Linked DNA regions of Homo sapiens: region 2 is linked to region 1. The links come from fine-mapping of genetic effects on gene expression. Tissue or cell type: whole blood. Region 1 holds a variant in brackets; the other region holds the start of a gene. All regions are shown on one strand. Distances are between the middles of the regions.

Region 1 (8,000 bases):
CCGGTGCCTCTGAACCGCTCCAGGAATTTCCTTTTGTGCCTTATTGGGGGCAGGGAAGAGGGCCTGCAGTTGGTTAGATTTTCAGTGGGGTCTGTGACCCCCCCATAGAGGTGGAGCCCCGCTGATCTAGGGTAGAGGACTGCACAGATCCCCTCTCTGGGTGGGTTTCAGAAGATGTATCAAAGCCTTAACATTTAACAAGAGTCAGGCTAGGTGGTTGCAGGACGCTGGGGTGGGGTCCTGAGGAGCAGCCTGCCTGCCCCCACCCCGCGGAGGAGGTTGTACTGCTGCTTCCTCTGGTGATGGAACCTTGGGGAGGGTCCCCACGCCTGGCCTGGCCCCCCTCACCGGCCCCCGCCCTCATCCCCCAGGAGGAGACACCCCTGTTTCTGGCCGCCCGGGAGGGCAGCTACGAGACCGCCAAGGTGCTGCTGGACCACTTTGCCAACCGGGACATCACGGATCATATGGACCGCCTGCCGCGCGACATCGCACAGGAGCGCATGCATCACGACATCGTGAGGCTGCTGGACGAGTACAACCTGGTGCGCAGCCCGCAGCTGCACGGAGCCCCGCTGGGGGGCACGCCCACCCTGTCGCCCCCGCTCTGCTCGCCCAACGGCTACCTGGGCAGCCTCAAGCCCGGCGTGCAGGGCAAGAAGGTCCGCAAGCCCAGCAGCAAAGGCCTGGCCTGTGGAAGCAAGGAGGCCAAGGACCTCAAGGCACGGAGGAAGAAGTCCCAGGACGGCAAGGGCTGCCTGCTGGACAGCTCCGGCATGCTCTCGCCCGTGGACTCCCTGGAGTCACCCCATGGCTACCTGTCAGACGTGGCCTCGCCGCCACTGCTGCCCTCCCCGTTCCAGCAGTCTCCGTCCGTGCCCCTCAACCACCTGCCTGGGATGCCCGACACCCACCTGGGCATCGGGCACCTGAACGTGGCGGCCAAGCCCGAGATGGCGGCGCTGGGTGGGGGCGGCCGGCTGGCCTTTGAGACTGGCCCACCTCGTCTCTCCCACCTGCCTGTGGCCTCTGGCACCAGCACCGTCCTGGGCTCCAGCAGCGGAGGGGCCCTGAATTTCACTGTGGGCGGGTCCACCAGTTTGAATGGTCAATGCGAGTGGCTGTCCCGGCTGCAGAGCGGCATGGTGCCGAACCAATACAACCCTCTGCGGGGGAGTGTGGCACCAGGCCCCCTGAGCACACAGGCCCCCTCCCTGCAGCATGGCATGGTAGGCCCGCTGCACAGTAGCCTTGCTGCCAGCGCCCTGTCCCAGATGATGAGCTACCAGGGCCTGCCCAGCACCCGGCTGGCCACCCAGCCTCACCTGGTGCAGACCCAGCAGGTGCAGCCACAAAACTTACAGATGCAGCAGCAGAACCTGCAGCCAGCAAACATCCAGCAGCAGCAAAGCCTGCAGCCGCCACCACCACCACCACAGCCGCACCTTGGCGTGAGCTCAGCAGCCAGCGGCCACCTGGGCCGGAGCTTCCTGAGTGGAGAGCCGAGCCAGGCAGACGTGCAGCCACTGGGCCCCAGCAGCCTGGCGGTGCACACTATTCTGCCCCAGGAGAGCCCCGCCCTGCCCACGTCGCTGCCATCCTCGCTGGTCCCACCCGTGACCGCAGCCCAGTTCCTGACGCCCCCCTCGCAGCACAGCTACTCCTCGCCTGTGGACAACACCCCCAGCCACCAGCTACAGGTGCCTGAGCACCCCTTCCTCACCCCGTCCCCTGAGTCCCCTGACCAGTGGTCCAGCTCGTCCCCGCATTCCAACGTCTCCGACTGGTCCGAGGGCGTCTCCAGCCCTCCCACCAGCATGCAGTCCCAGATCGCCCGCATTCCGGAGGCCTTCAAGTAAACGGCGCGCCCCACGAGACCCCGGCTTCCTTTCCCAAGCCTTCGGGCGTCTGTGTGCGCTCTGTGGATGCCAGGGCCGACCAGAGGAGCCTTTTTAAAACACATGTTTTTATACAAAATAAGAACGAGGATTTTAATTTTTTTTAGTATTTATTTATGTACTTTTATTTTACACAGAAACACTGCCTTTTTATTTATATGTACTGTTTTATCTGGCCCCAGGTAGAAACTTTTATCTATTCTGAGAAAACAAGCAAGTTCTGAGAGCCAGGGTTTTCCTACGTAGGATGAAAAGATTCTTCTGTGTTTATAAAATATAAACAAAGATTCATGATTTATAAATGCCATTTATTTATTGATTCCTTTTTTCAAAATCCAAAAAGAAATGATGTTGGAGAAGGGAAGTTGAACGAGCATAGTCCAAAAAGCTCCTGGGGCGTCCAGGCCGCGCCCTTTCCCCGACGCCCACCCAACCCCAAGCCAGCCCGGCCGCTCCACCAGCATCACCTGCCTGTTAGGAGAAGCTGCATCCAGAGGCAAACGGAGGCAAAGCTGGCTCACCTTCCGCACGCGGATTAATTTGCATCTGAAATAGGAAACAAGTGAAAGCATATGGGTTAGATGTTGCCATGTGTTTTAGATGGTTTCTTGCAAGCATGCTTGTGAAAATGTGTTCTCGGAGTGTGTATGCCAAGAGTGCACCCATGGTACCAATCATGAATCTTTGTTTCAGGTTCAGTATTATGTAGTTGTTCGTTGGTTATACAAGTTCTTGGTCCCTCCAGAACCACCCCGGCCCCCTGCCCGTTCTTGAAATGTAGGCATCATGCATGTCAAACATGAGATGTGTGGACTGTGGCACTTGCCTGGGTCACACACGGAGGCATCCTACCCTTTTCTGGGGAAAGACACTGCCTGGGCTGACCCCGGTGGCGGCCCCAGCACCTCAGCCTGCACAGTGTCCCCCAGGTTCCGAAGAAGATGCTCCAGCAACACAGCCTGGGCCCCAGCTCGCGGGACCCGACCCCCCGTGGGCTCCCGTGTTTTGTAGGAGACTTGCCAGAGCCGGGCACATTGAGCTGTGCAACGCCGTGGGCTGCGTCCTTTGGTCCTGTCCCCGCAGCCCTGGCAGGGGGCATGCGGTCGGGCAGGGGCTGGAGGGAGGCGGGGGCTGCCCTTGGGCCACCCCTCCTAGTTTGGGAGGAGCAGATTTTTGCAATACCAAGTATAGCCTATGGCAGAAAAAATGTCTGTAAATATGTTTTTAAAGGTGGATTTTGTTTAAAAAATCTTAATGAATGAGTCTGTTGTGTGTCATGCCAGTGAGGGACGTCAGACTTGGCTCAGCTCGGGGAGCCTTAGCCGCCCATGCACTGGGGACGCTCCGCTGCCGTGCCGCCTGCACTCCTCAGGGCAGCCTCCCCCGGCTCTACGGGGGCCGCGTGGTGCCATCCCCAGGGGGCATGACCAGATGCGTCCCAAGATGTTGATTTTTACTGTGTTTTATAAAATAGAGTGTAGTTTACAGAAAAAGACTTTAAAAGTGATCTACATGAGGAACTGTAGATGATGTATTTTTTTCATCTTTTTTGTTAACTGATTTGCAATAAAAATGATACTGATGGTGATCTGGCTTCCACTCCCCTCTGCTCTGGCCTTTGGCTCCCTTTCTGGGAGGGAGGCAGGGCTGCTATGCTCTGAGGGAGCCAGGAGTCGAGGGCCCCTTCTGCTGGGAGAGTGACGGTGAGGCTGCCTAGTCCTGGCCCACGGGGGTGTGGGGACCACGCTGCCTCCAGGGACTCCATGGTGTCTGCAGCCTGCCTGGTCCAGGCCCTTTGTAGGGAGATGGACACACAGCAGCAAGGGGGTTGCAGCCCTATGGGAGGTGGGGCTCGTGCCTGGGGTGACACGGCTCCCAGGACACCATGCGTGAGTCTGGCCCTCCTGGCAGCTCGGGGCTCTTCTCCTCTCAGCCTCGGAGGGATGAAGGTCCCACCCAGCCATCCTGGGGACAGCCCCTCAGGGAGCTCTGCAGCAGGCAGGGGGCTGCATAGGGAGGGCCTTGAGGCAGTGGCATGACCCCTCTACGGGCTGGAGACCACAGGGAGGACTCTGGCCCCTATAGGAGGGCAAAGGGAGCTGTCGAAGCCTATGAGCAGGGCAGCATGGGTCGTGGCAGAGTCTGGAAAGTTGTGTGATCCTAAGGAACTGGCTGAGCGAGGCAGAGGCGGCCTGGTCCTGGGGCCCTGCCCCTGAATAGAGCTGCCAGCCTCACACAAGGGTGGGCCCCTTCTCTCCCCACTGCCTGGGCCTCTGCCCAGCCCCAGACCTTCAGGGCAGGCCAGTGGCTTCAAACCAGAGCGGTGGGGAGTCTGAGATCCCTCTTTGGATTGCAAAGCACTGCCTGCCCTGGGCCCAGTCTCTCCAAGGAGGGATGTGAGCCCGAGGCCTCTACTATGGCTGGGGGCTGCGTCTGCCAGCCAGCGCTGGGCACCAGGACCAGGAGGGGCCACCGTGGAACTGCAGTGAGTGGCCTGACTCTTGTCTTCAAAGGGGGTGACCCAGCCGGAGTCCTGCCCATAAAACTCCCAGCACCCTGAAATTCCACTCCTGGGGGTCTGTCCGAAAGAAGTGAAAACAGGGACTCAAACAAACGCACGTGGCCACTTGCTGTCCC[G/A]GCATCACTCAGTACAGCCACAGACAGCCTGAGCGTCCACTGCCAACGACGGGTCAGCAAAACCGTCTGCTGTGACGGTGAACCTTAGTGTCAGCTTGGCCGGGCCATTTCGCCAAACGGAGTGTGTCTCTGAGGTGTTCTGGATGAGGTTCGCATTTGCATCCACAGCCCGGGTAAGGCAGTCCGCCCTCCCCAGTGTGGGTGGGCCCCGTGCGGTCCGCTGAGGCCTGGGGAGAACAATAGGCCGAGTGCCAGGGGTCCTCCCACCCAACCGCTTGCACTGGACATTGGTCTTTTCCTGCCTTCAGACTTGGACTGAAAACGTGGGCTCTTCCTGGGCCTGGAGCCCACCGGCCTTCGGACTCGCAACGCCATCAGGCCTCCTGCCTGCAACTGCAGACCCTGGGAACTGCAGGCCTCGAGGTCGTGTGGCCAATTCCCTGCAATAACCTCTCCAGTGGCACGTCTTATGGGCTCCGCTTGCCGGAAGAACCCTGACGAATGCGCACGAGGGAATATGATTCCACCGTAGAAAAGGAGGCGCTGACACCCACCATGCGGACAAGCCTTGGAAGCACGGTGCTCAGTGAAGGGTGCCGGCCGCAAAGGGCCGCAGGTGCAGTGACTCCATTTCTATGGGGTGCCTGTGGTCACCGAACCCATGGAGACAGAAAGTAGATTGATGGTTCCCAGAGCCGGGGGGAGGAGGAAAGGGGAGTGGCTGCTAAACGGCCCGGGGTTTTTTTTTGTTTTGTTTTGTTTTTATACTTTAAGTTTTAGTTTATTGTGGCACTGTTCACAATAGCAAAGACTTGGAACCAACCCAAATGTCCAACAATGATAGACTAGATTAAGAAAATGTGGCACATATATACCATGGAATACTATGCAGCCATAAAAAATGATGAGTTCATGTCCTTTGTAGGGACGTGGATGAAGACGGCCCGGGGTTTTACTTTGGAGTGACGCAAATGTTCTGGGCCCAGGGAGAGGTGGTGCGTGCACAGCCCTTCGAGTGCACTAAATGCCAATAACGCGGACACTTTTTTTTTTTTTTTTTGAGACGGAGTCTCGCTCTGTCACCCAGGCTGGAATGTGGTGGCGTGATCTTGGCTCACTGCAACCTCCGCCTCTGTGTTCAAGTGATTCTCCTGCCTCAGCCTCCAAAGTAACTGGGATTACAGGCCCCTACCACCACACCCGGCTAATTTTTTTGTATTTTTAGTAGAGATTGGGTTTCACCATGTTGGCCAGGCTGGTTTCAAACTCCTGATCTCAAGTGATCCACCCGCCTCGGCCTCTTAAAGTGCTGAGGTTACAGGCGTGAGCCACTGCACCTGGCCTAACTCGTACACTTTAAAGTGGTTAATTTTAGGTTCTGTGAGTCTCACCTCAATATGTTATTTTTTTTTTTTAATTAAAAAAAGTTTTTGAGACAGGGTCTTGCTCTGTCACCCAGGCTGGAGTGCAGTGGTGCCATGATAGCTTATTGCAGCCTCAACCTCCTGGGCCCAGGTGATCCTCCCACCTTGGTCTCTCTAGCAGCTGGGATTACAGGTGCACACCACCTCACCCACCCAATTTTTTTGTTATTTTTTGCAGAGATGGGGTCTCACTTTGTTGCCCAGGTTGGTCTCGAACTCCTGAGCTCATGCAGTCCTCTCCTCACCTTGGCCTCCCAGAGTGCTGGGATTACAGGTGTGGGCCACTGCGCCTGGCCACATATGCAACTTTAAATATTTCAGTAGCCACATTAAAAAGGTAAAAAGAAACAGGCAAAGTGTATATTAATACTACAGCTTAGTTAATCCAATATATCAAAAATATTATTTTAACACAACATAAAAAGTGAATGAGTTTTTTTTTGTTGTTTTTTGTTTTTTGAGACAGAGTCTCCCTCTGTCACCCAGGCTGGAGTGCAGTGGTGCGATCTCAGCTCACTGCAACTTCCGCCTCCCGGGTTCAAGCGATTCTCCTGCCTCAGCCTCCCGAGTAGCTGGGATTACAGGCACCTGCCACCACGCCCAGCTAATTTTTGTATTTTTAGTAGAGAGGGGGTTTCACCATGTTGGCCAGGCTGGTCTTGATCTCTTGACCTCGTGATCGGCCCACCTCGGCCTCCCAAAGTGCTGGGATTATAGGCGTAAGCCACCACGCCCGGCCGTGAATGAGATGTTTTATATTCTTTTTGTTTGTTTGTTTTTGGTACTGTGTCTTTGAAACCCAGGATGTACAGTACACTCACAGCACCCTAGATTGGGCCTGGCCACACTTTAAAAGGTGTTCAGTATCTCCAGGAGGCTCACGTCCAGATTCGGACTCTTCAGCAGGATGCCAAGGGGGCTCCAGACAGTTCCACCCAGCGCAGGAAAACACCAAGTGTATCTTCAGCCTGGTGACTCACTCCACGCCGCTGCCGGCGTGAACCCCGAGTGTGGCGCTGCGTCCCTCTGGATAGAGCAAAGGAGGGTCCCAAGAGCCCGGAGGCACCAACTCATCAGGGCCCACAAATCAGGCCCCCGGCAGGCAGGGCTGCCTCCATCCAAGAGGGAAGCACGGTGCCGTAGCCCCCGGGCTGCTCCAGGGATCGACAGGCCTGTGCTGCCTTCATCCCAAAAGTCTCACTTGCAAAGGGTGTCCGTGGGGCTCAACTGCGTGCTCAGCGGTGGACTGATTTCGTTCTGTGTGGCTCCTTATCTCATCGTGGACCCAAATCCACGAACCACACATGAGGAGCTCTGCTGGAGGGGGCAGCACTGGGCAGAGGCAGACAAGGGGGAGCGTCACGCGGCTGTTTCCCGTGGTGAGCATCCACCAGCAGCGGTTCCTGGTGGGACACCGACGTATTCGTCTGCAAAAGTAAAAGTGTTTCAAAACAAAACCGGGTCCAGCTTGGTCCCGGTGCGTTGAAAGTGCTGGCGTTGGCCAGGCGTGGTGGCTCACGCCTGTAATCCCAGCACTTTGGGAGGCTGAGGCGGGTGGATCACAAGGTCAGGAGATTGAGACCATCCTGGCTAACACGGTGAAACCCCGTCTCTACTAAAAAATACAAAAAATTAGCCGGGCGTGGTGGCAGGCGCCTGTAGTCCTAGCTACTTGGGAGGCTGAGGCAGGAGAATGGCGTGAACCTGGGAGGCGGAGCTTGCAGTGAGCAGAGATCATGCCTCTGCACTCCAGCCTGGGCGACAGAGCAAGACACTCTCACAAAAAAAAAAAAAAAAAAAAAAAAAAAAAAAAAAAGTGCTGGCGTTAGTGGAGGTCTCTCAGAGGGGGCGTTGCAGGGCCTCCCACGTTACTCAGGCTTTGCAGACGAAGACGCAGGGTCAGTGAGTGAGCGAGCTTTGGGAAAGGCTGTTCTTCAATCTGCATCTTGAAGGTGGCTGGGTGGCGCCTCAGTCGCCTGCCCCGACGTGACTCCCGATCTGGCTGCTTTGTGTCTTTGCTTTCCACCTGGCGGCTGCTGTC
Region 2 (8,000 bases), 55 kb after region 1:
TACTGGGTGGCAGTCCACAGGGCACTGTGAGGAGCCAGGCTGGGCCCTCCCCGGCTGCCATTTCTCCCTTTGTGTGGACACCAGGCCCACCGTGCTCAGCTCTGCGTGGACACCAGGCCCGCCGTGCTCCCGTGTGGAGCTCTGTCGACACGAGGCCCTCCGTGCTCCTGTATTCGCTTTGCCTTTTCCTAGGTTGTAGTTTGTAAAATGTGCTTGGCTTTCTACTTGTGTATCCCTCATTCAGCCCCCAGCTCTGCCACGTCTGCTATTCTGTTCTCCTGGAGCCCGTGGTCTCTGAGCCGAGCGTGATCTCTCCTCCCTTGGCCCGGGCACCCGGGTCTCCCCGGAGTGGGTCCCCCAGCTTTGGAATCCTATGTTGCTGCCTTTCTTAGTTACTCTGTTTGTCTTGGTGACACACATCCTCTGGTAGCTCTTGCTTTTTTTGTATGTTTTTTATTTCTTTTTCCTAATAGCTTCTTGACAGAAAGGTCCCAGGGTGACTTGGGAGATGCCTTTCACGTCTGGAGCTGCCTTTCTCCTCCGGCCTATCTGGCTGGCTGGTAGAATTCTTGGGCCAAAGTCACTTTCTTCAGAACTGCAAGTGGCCTTAGGTTTCCTGCTGCCTGTGGTTGCTGAGACCCCAGGGCCGTTCTGCCTGCAGCCCCTTTCAGGGTCCGTTTCCCTGGGACCTGGAGGGCTTCACCCTCAGCCCCCTTGGGCCTGACTGCATGCCCTTCAGCTGGGGAGTGTTCTAGAATGTTTCCTGTGGTTTCCCTCCCTCAGCCTCGTCTCTCCTCCCCTCTCCCTTGCCTGTGGAGTATAGACTGGCTGCCAGTGTAGGGGAGCTGAGCGGGGTCCAAGGTCTGGGGCCTCTTGGGATTCAGCCCCATTGTCACCCCAGCCTGCCCTCACAGCCTCACACACTCTTGACTGCAGGCTTCCTGGGCTGGGGCCCAGCACTCCTGCCCTGGTCCTCTACAAACGAGGCCGAGGCTCCCAGGACCACTGCCCCCAAGCTGGCCCCTGGCTGTCACCTGCTTTTCAGCATCCAGACTAGTCGATTTTGGTATTGTCCTGCTCCCTTTACCATGTGGTTAGTGCCTTTACAAAAATTCCTTGGCTTTCCCCTCCATGAGGCTTTGCGAGGGAGCAAGAGTGGATGCCTGCATTGGCCAGCTGTCTGCAACTGAGGTCCCCGCGTCCCATGCAGTAGGCCAGGCCTGGCCACCACTTGTCCCTGGACTCTGGACAGCCAGGCTGGCTCTGCAGAGCAGCTCCAGGTCTCATGGCCCTGATGAAACCACGGCACCTCCTGGCCACCCTCACAGTAAACATTGATGGTTAAGGATACAGTGCTTTCAAGGGAGCCCAGGACTTGGCACTGACTTGTCGGTTTCCAGAGGCTTTTGGAAACAAAAACGAAGCCTTCAGCTTGTCAGCGCCAATGGCCCGTGTGGTTCATTATGTGGACCAGCCCCTGCCACGCTGCAGCCGAGCACTGCTCACCCTGGGGGCAGGCATGCAGAGGTCATGCTGTTGATTTCATTCCAGGCCTGCGCCACCTCCGGGAGCTCAAGGCTAGGGAGGATTGGCCAGAGGAAGCACCTGGTGCTGAACTAGGCTTGCCCTGCTGTGAACTTGCACTTGGAGCCCTGACGCTGCTGTTCTCCCCGAAGAACCCGACCGACCTCCGCGATCTCCGTCCCGCCCCCAGGGAGACACAGCAGTGACTCAGAGCTGGTCGCACACTGTGCCTCCCTCCTCACCGCCCATCGTAATGAATTATTTTGAAAATTAATTCCACCATCCTTTCAGATTCTGGATGGAAAGACTGAATCTTTGACTCAGAATTGTTTGCCGAAAAGAATGATGTGACTTTCTTAGTCATTTAGGATGATTTAAGGATATAGTATTCCTGGTCATTTAAGAATGTTCATTCATTGAAGCCGGAGCTGTCTCTGCCACAGGAGAGCCACATGGTCGGTAGTAACCAGGGCCTCTCCAAGCCCAGCTGTGAGTCACTGCCCAGTGAGTCCCGCGCTTCCTTTAAGGTGCTGGGAGCAAAGAGAGGGTGACTGAGGCAGACCCCAACCCCTGCTCTGCACCATCTGGGCCCTCGCCGTGTTTGAACCTGGCTGAATGAGTGGAGGGCGCTGTGTTCTCAATCAGCGCCTCCGAGGAGCCGTGGGGTTCCTTCGGCATTAGTTCACGGTTTTTGAGAGAGGCCTTAGTTACTGCAGTGAATTTCTTTCCTGTTGCAAAGACGCTTCCAGCCTCACTTTACTTTCTGTGGCCTGATGAGGACCATGGGTGATTTTGTGTACCCAAAGCGCTGGGGACTGCCCACCGTGTGGCCCAGTCACTGGGAAGGAGCCCCAGAGAGCCGGCTGTCTGACATGATGGCTCAGGGTGGTCATCCAGGTTGAAAACTGACCGTGTGATGTTTGATTTGGGCTTCATTTCGTGTGTAGGAGCACGGTTAGACTCACTGTTAAGGAAGCTGGATGCACTTCTCTAAAAGGCTGCACTTTCCGTGAGCACTTTTCGTGGTACAATCCACATGACCCACTTTCTCCCCTGGGGGACGTTGGTTCAGAGGTTGGTAGCACTTGGGGAGAGTATCTTAACACAGTTTCTTGACAGCAGCTCTGGAACTTAGTATTTCTGCCCCGAGTTTTGCCACACTGAGACTTTGAGTAGCTCCTGGTGGACTCAACCCTGTTCAACTCAGAGACGGGCCTCCTCTCACTGATGCAAAGCTTTAAGGCTTCTCTGACTGTTCTGAAACTCTTCGTATTCTTGTCAAGTCTAAAGAGACTGAAGAAAAGATTTAAATACTAATAAAAATCAGTAGATAATTTCTGTAGGTTCTGCTGGAGGAATACAAACTGTTTGGTGTTTTAAATTTAAGTGTAGAAATTGTAGAATGTGGAATTAGCACAGATCCTTCCTGGCTTTCTGTTTCACTTGATCATTTAGCCCAGACCACCCAGGATGTTTTCCAAAATGTTCCACAGGCGTGTCCCGCTGGATCCATTTGTCCTTGTCACTTGGAGAAAGGCCAGTCCCTGTGACGGGGCAGCCCTCTCTGTCCCTCGGTCAGCTCGTGTGAATCCTGGGACCTCTTCCGGTCGGCTCTGCCCGCTGTTCTGGGGTCGACTGCCACGACTTTTGATTCAAGAAGCTTCCTCCAGGCGGGAGCGGCTATTTTTCCTAAATGAGAATTGTTACATTGCAAATTGTTGAATAAAATATTTTGCGCTCCTTCAAGCACCTTCACCTGTGGTTCCCTTTGGTTTGCTGGAAGCGAGTGAGTGCAGGTGTCCGCAGGCCTCGGCGCTGTCCTGGACCGCACCCAGGTCCTCTCCGGGGACCTGCACCTGCCTCGCTGGGACCTGCCGGACTGCGGGGCTGCCGGGTTGGGAGGGGCGTGGGAGACCCGTCCGGGTCCGGTGCGGCGCAGTCCTCCGGCCGCCAGGGGCCGCTGTGGGCGGGGCCGGGGCGCGGGGCGGGGACCGGGCGCGGCCCCGCGGCGGCGGTTGCTGGGTCCCGGCCGGGCTGACTCCGCTTCTGGGCGGCCGGGCCTCCGCGAGTACCGGGTCGACTTCGGAGTCTGCGAGCCCAGCCAGGGGTGCCCGCTTCCCACCCCTCTCCCCGAGCGGCGTCCCCGTCGGGGTCGAACCTCCCCCGCGACAGGCGCCCAGCCGCCTGTTCCCCCAGGCCTTGCCTGCGGACCGCCCTGGGAACGGCGTCTGGGAGCCCCGAGGGGCTGGCGGGACTCGGGGCCCGGGCCATGCGGCAGCCGCCCCCGCCCCTCCGCGACCATCCCCGGCCCAAGCGGGAGCCGCAGCGGCGTTTCTGCTCCTCGCTGCGCCGGCGACCCCGGACCCGGCACCCGTGACCCCTCGCGCTGCCTGCGGCCTCGCGCCGAGGCCTGCCCCGGGAGAGACCGTCCATGCCGTCCAAGGCGGAGAATCTGCGGCCCTCCGAGCCGGCCCCGCAGCCGCCGGAAGGGAGGACGCTCCAAGGACAGCTTCCCGGCGCTCCGCCGGCCCAGCGCGCGGGGTCCCCACCCGATGCTCCGGGCTCCGAGAGCCCCGCGCTTGCCTGCAGCACTCCGGCCACGCCCAGCGGCGAGGACCCGCCAGCCCGAGCAGCACCCATCGCCCCGCGGCCCCCCGCCAGGCCTCGACTGGAGCGAGCCCTGTCCCTGGACGACAAGGGCTGGAGGAGGAGGCGTTTTCGAGGCAGCCAGGAGGACCTGGAAGCCCGGAATGGGACCAGTCCCTCCAGGGGCTCAGTGCAGAGCGAGGGCCCCGGGGCCCCCGCCCACAGCTGCTCCCCGCCCTGCCTGAGCACCTCCTTGCAGGAAATCCCCAAGTCCCGCGGGGTCCTGAGCAGTGAGAGAGGGAGCCCGTCCTCGGGGGGTAACCCTCTCTCTGGGGTGGCCAGCAGCTCCCCGAACCTCCCGCACAGAGACGCCGCCGTGGCGGGGAGCTCGCCCAGGCTGCCCAGCCTGCTGCCCCCGCGCCCACCGCCTGCCCTGAGCCTGGACATCGCCTCCGACTCCCTGAGGACAGCAAACAAGGTCGACTCGGATCTTGCAGACTACAAGCTCCGCGCGCAGCCGCTCCTGGTGCGGGCCCACAGCAGCCTGGGCCCCGGCCGGCCGCGGAGCCCCCTGGCCTGCGACGACTGTTCCCTTCGCTCGGCCAAATCCTCCTTCAGCCTCCTGGCGCCCATCCGCAGCAAGGACGTCCGCAGCAGGTAGGGAGGGCCTGGCGGGTGCAGCGCCCGCGCCGCCTTCGTTGTAGTGTTCAGGCTGCTGGAACCTCGTGAGACCGTTCCCATCAGCAGCGTTTAAGATGCCTAACCGGAAAGAACGAAGCGGGTCTCCCGCAGCCACCCCATCTCCCAGCCCCACCCCACAGCAGCGCCCTTCCCAGAACTTTTCCTGTGCGTTTCAGAACCATTCGTGGGCGTGACGTTGTGTTAAGGTAGACAGGATGGCATCCTGCATACAATTACGTATCTGGCGCTTTTTCTTGTTTAGTCTTGGGAAATGTCGTCAATGTATACGATCCGCCCCTTTGGTTGTTTTTGTTTGTTACTCTCTCTGTCGCCCAGGCTGGAGTGCAGCGGCGCGATCCCGGCTCACTGCAACCTCTGCCTCCTGGGTTCAAGGGATCCTCCTGCCGCAGCCTCCTGAGAATCTGGGATTACAGGCGCCCGCCACCACACCCAGCTAAATTTTGTATTTTTAGTAGGGGCGGGGTTTCGCCGTGTTGGCGAGGCTGGTCTCGAACTCCTGGCCTCGGCCTCCCAAAGTGCTGGGATTCCCGGCGTGGGCCACTGCGCCCGGCCTGCCCCCTTTGTTTTTTTCTGCGGCAAGAGGCCCCAGATGTGTTGAGGCTACTTTCGTTTAGCCACTTGCTCATGAGGAACATTTTGGTGGGCTCCAGCTGTTGCTGGAAGGAACTGCAGCTGAACCCATGACCTCTCCCAAGCCTGGTCTTGTCTTGGGGTCTCAGTCTGGGGGCCTGTCCTGAGATGCTCCCACTATGACTTGGCAGAGTCACCTGCACCCTTCTTTTCCTCCCCCCACCCCACTGCCATGGTGCCCAAGTCTTGTCTGTCAGCCGCGGCGGGAGGCAGGACAGGTGTGAGAAGGGAGAGGTGTGAGGTGGTTTCTGTGTTGGTGTCCTGGGGCCGTTGTAACTCATGACCACAGACTGGGAGGCTTGCAACAGCAGAGCTGGACTCTCTCCCAGTTCTAGAGGCCAGAAGTCTAAAATCAAGGTGTGGCCACGCAGCCTCTCTCCAGAGGCTCAGGGGAGGGTCCTCCCGCTGCCTCCCGCTCCTGGGGCCCCACTTGTTCCTTGGCTTGTGGCCGCATGCTCCAGTCTCTGCCTCTGTCTTTATGTGGCCTCTTCCCTGTCTCTCTGTGTTCCCCTCTCTTTTTATAAGGACACCAGTCATTGAATTTACTGCCTACCCTAAATCCAGGGTGGTCTTATCTCGAGATCCTTAATTAAACACGTTTGCAAAGACCCCGTTTCCGAATAAGGTCCCATTCCAAGGTTCTGGGGCTCTGGGAGTGGACATGGCTTTGGGGATCACTGTTCAGCTCACCACAGTCCCCGAAGGTAGCCTCACTTCCCCGCGTCTGTGGTGCACCAGCAGGCAGGTGGGCTCAGGCCTGGAGTGAGGGCCCGTGCCTGGCGCCCCCACCATACTCTCCTCCTGTCATGGATGGAGCAGGTGCGATCACATCCAGGGCAAGACTGCTGCTTTTGTTAAAATAATTCACTGCAGGGCTTCTCGTAAAGAGTGAGATTTCTTAGTGCATCTAAAGCATCACATTTTAAAATTAGATCCGGTTGACGTAGATACACCTGTTAGAGAAAAGGACAGTCGTGTCTCAAATTTGGACCCTCAAGTCATTGTTTTCAAACAACCAGGAAACGAGGGTTGACGTGGATCCTTTAACCCAGTTCTGCTGCCTAACAGCTTCCCATTTCCAGACCTCCGGTCTGTTCTAGAATAGGAGTCGGCGCACTCTTTCTGTCAAGGGGGAGACACAGACAGTGGGGACCAAAGGGCGTCTGTGTGCCAGTGAGTCTATTAGGGACATACATTGGAACCTCGCTCTTTTTTCTTTCTCTGCCGTTCCACACAGTAAAACCCATTCTGAGTTTGCGGGCCGCGTGTGCACGGGCTGGGTCCGCCCTGTTTGAGAATGGCTGCTGGCTTTTGCCAGTGCCTTGGGGCTGCCAGGGCGGGTTAGGGGGCCTTTCCCCACCCGTTCCTTTTGCTCGGAGAGCTGGCCCAGGCTGTGGCAGCCAGCCTGAGCGTCCTCATGCAGAAGCTGTGCAGTGTCCTGGCCCTGGATGGGGGTCCGAGGCAGCTCTGCCCCTGCCCGTGTCTAGACACAGGAATGGCTGTGAGGGCCGCCCCTGGCCTGCTGTTACTAACCATGCTCTGGACAGAGCTGGGCAGACTGACCACGTGGCTGCTGGTGTGGACATGATGGGCGCTGCCGGCAAAGGGGCCGTGGGCCTCCAGCCTGGTGACCGAGGAGCCCCTGCTGGGCCCGGGATCACTTGACAGGGGTGCCCACAGGAACGCTCTCTGTCCCGAATGACCACTGTGTGAACACAGCTGTCCCGACCGGGATTGTCGACAGTTTTAGGGGTGAGGTAGCGAGGTTCCTCCCTGCTGACATGATTTAACGTGTCCAGTGAAGCTTGGTGAGCCGCAGCCAGGGTTGAAGAAGTTCTCGCGGGAGGTCACAGGAATCCGGCACTATGCTCTCGTGTCCCCTTGCGGAAGGGAACCATGTCAGAAGACGGCGTATCCAGAAGGAGCCGCACAAGTGTTACTTAGAGAGGGAGCGGGGAGGACGGCTGGCAAGCCTAGCCCACGGCGTTTCTGTATAGTCGGCGAGCTGAGAACGGGTTTTACATTTCCAAATGGTTGGAAAAAGTCAAAACCATTCTAATGATGTTTCATAGTACAAGAAAATTGTAAAATTCAGATTTCAGTGTCTGTAAATCAAGCGTCTCGGGCACACGGCTGCACCCCTTGTGTCCACATCCCCTGGTGGCTCTTGCACCACCGTAGCAGAGCCCACGGCGACAGACACTGGATGTCCCACGGAGCGGCAGGCGTGTGCGGTTGCCTCTTGACGGGTTACCAGCCCTCGTGGCAGAAGGTGCTGAGTGTGGGGAGGGGCAGGGACGTTGCTGTGCCACACGGTGTTTAACCATCTGTGTGCACCGCCGTATTAAAATCTGAAAGCATCAGCCTGGACAACGTGGCGAGACCCTGTTTCTACAAAAATAAAAAATAAATAAATAACTAGCCGGGCGTGGTGGCACTGCACCTGGAGTCCCAGCTACTCGGGAGGCTGAGGCAGGAGGATCACTTGAGCCCGGGAGGTAGAGGCTGCAGGGAGCTGTGTTAGTGCCACTGCACTCCAGCCTGGGCACGGAGTGAGA

Evidence for each region. PIP is the estimated chance that this variant, and not a neighbour inherited with it, causes the effect.
Region 2: it holds the start of INPP5E, and the variant in region 1 is fine-mapped to the expression of INPP5E in whole blood (TOPMed, PIP above 0.99).

The regions. Positions count from the first base shown.
Region 1 is chr9:136,489,930-136,497,929 of GRCh38, reverse strand. It overlaps NOTCH1 (notch receptor 1), which reads left to right. Exons shown (of 34, transcript NM_017617.5): 34 at 372-3,497. The coding sequence ends at 1,859. Among named protein-coding and RNA genes, the nearest start is that of C9orf163, 10 kb to the right of the region's middle. The variant G/A (reference allele first, on the strand shown) is at 4,536.
Region 2 is chr9:136,435,375-136,443,374 of GRCh38, reverse strand. It overlaps INPP5E (inositol polyphosphate-5-phosphatase E), which reads left to right and starts at 3,530. Exons shown (of 10, transcript NM_019892.6): 1 at 3,530-4,767. The coding sequence starts at 3,956. SEC16A (SEC16 homolog A, endoplasmic reticulum export factor) reads left to right here. Exons shown (of 32, transcript NM_014866.2): 32 at 1,552-3,270. The coding sequence ends at 1,620. RefSeq lists silencers at 3,372-3,571, 3,622-3,801, 3,862-4,351 and enhancers at 3,424-4,057, 4,058-4,692, 4,642-4,751, 4,693-5,326, 6,863-7,371.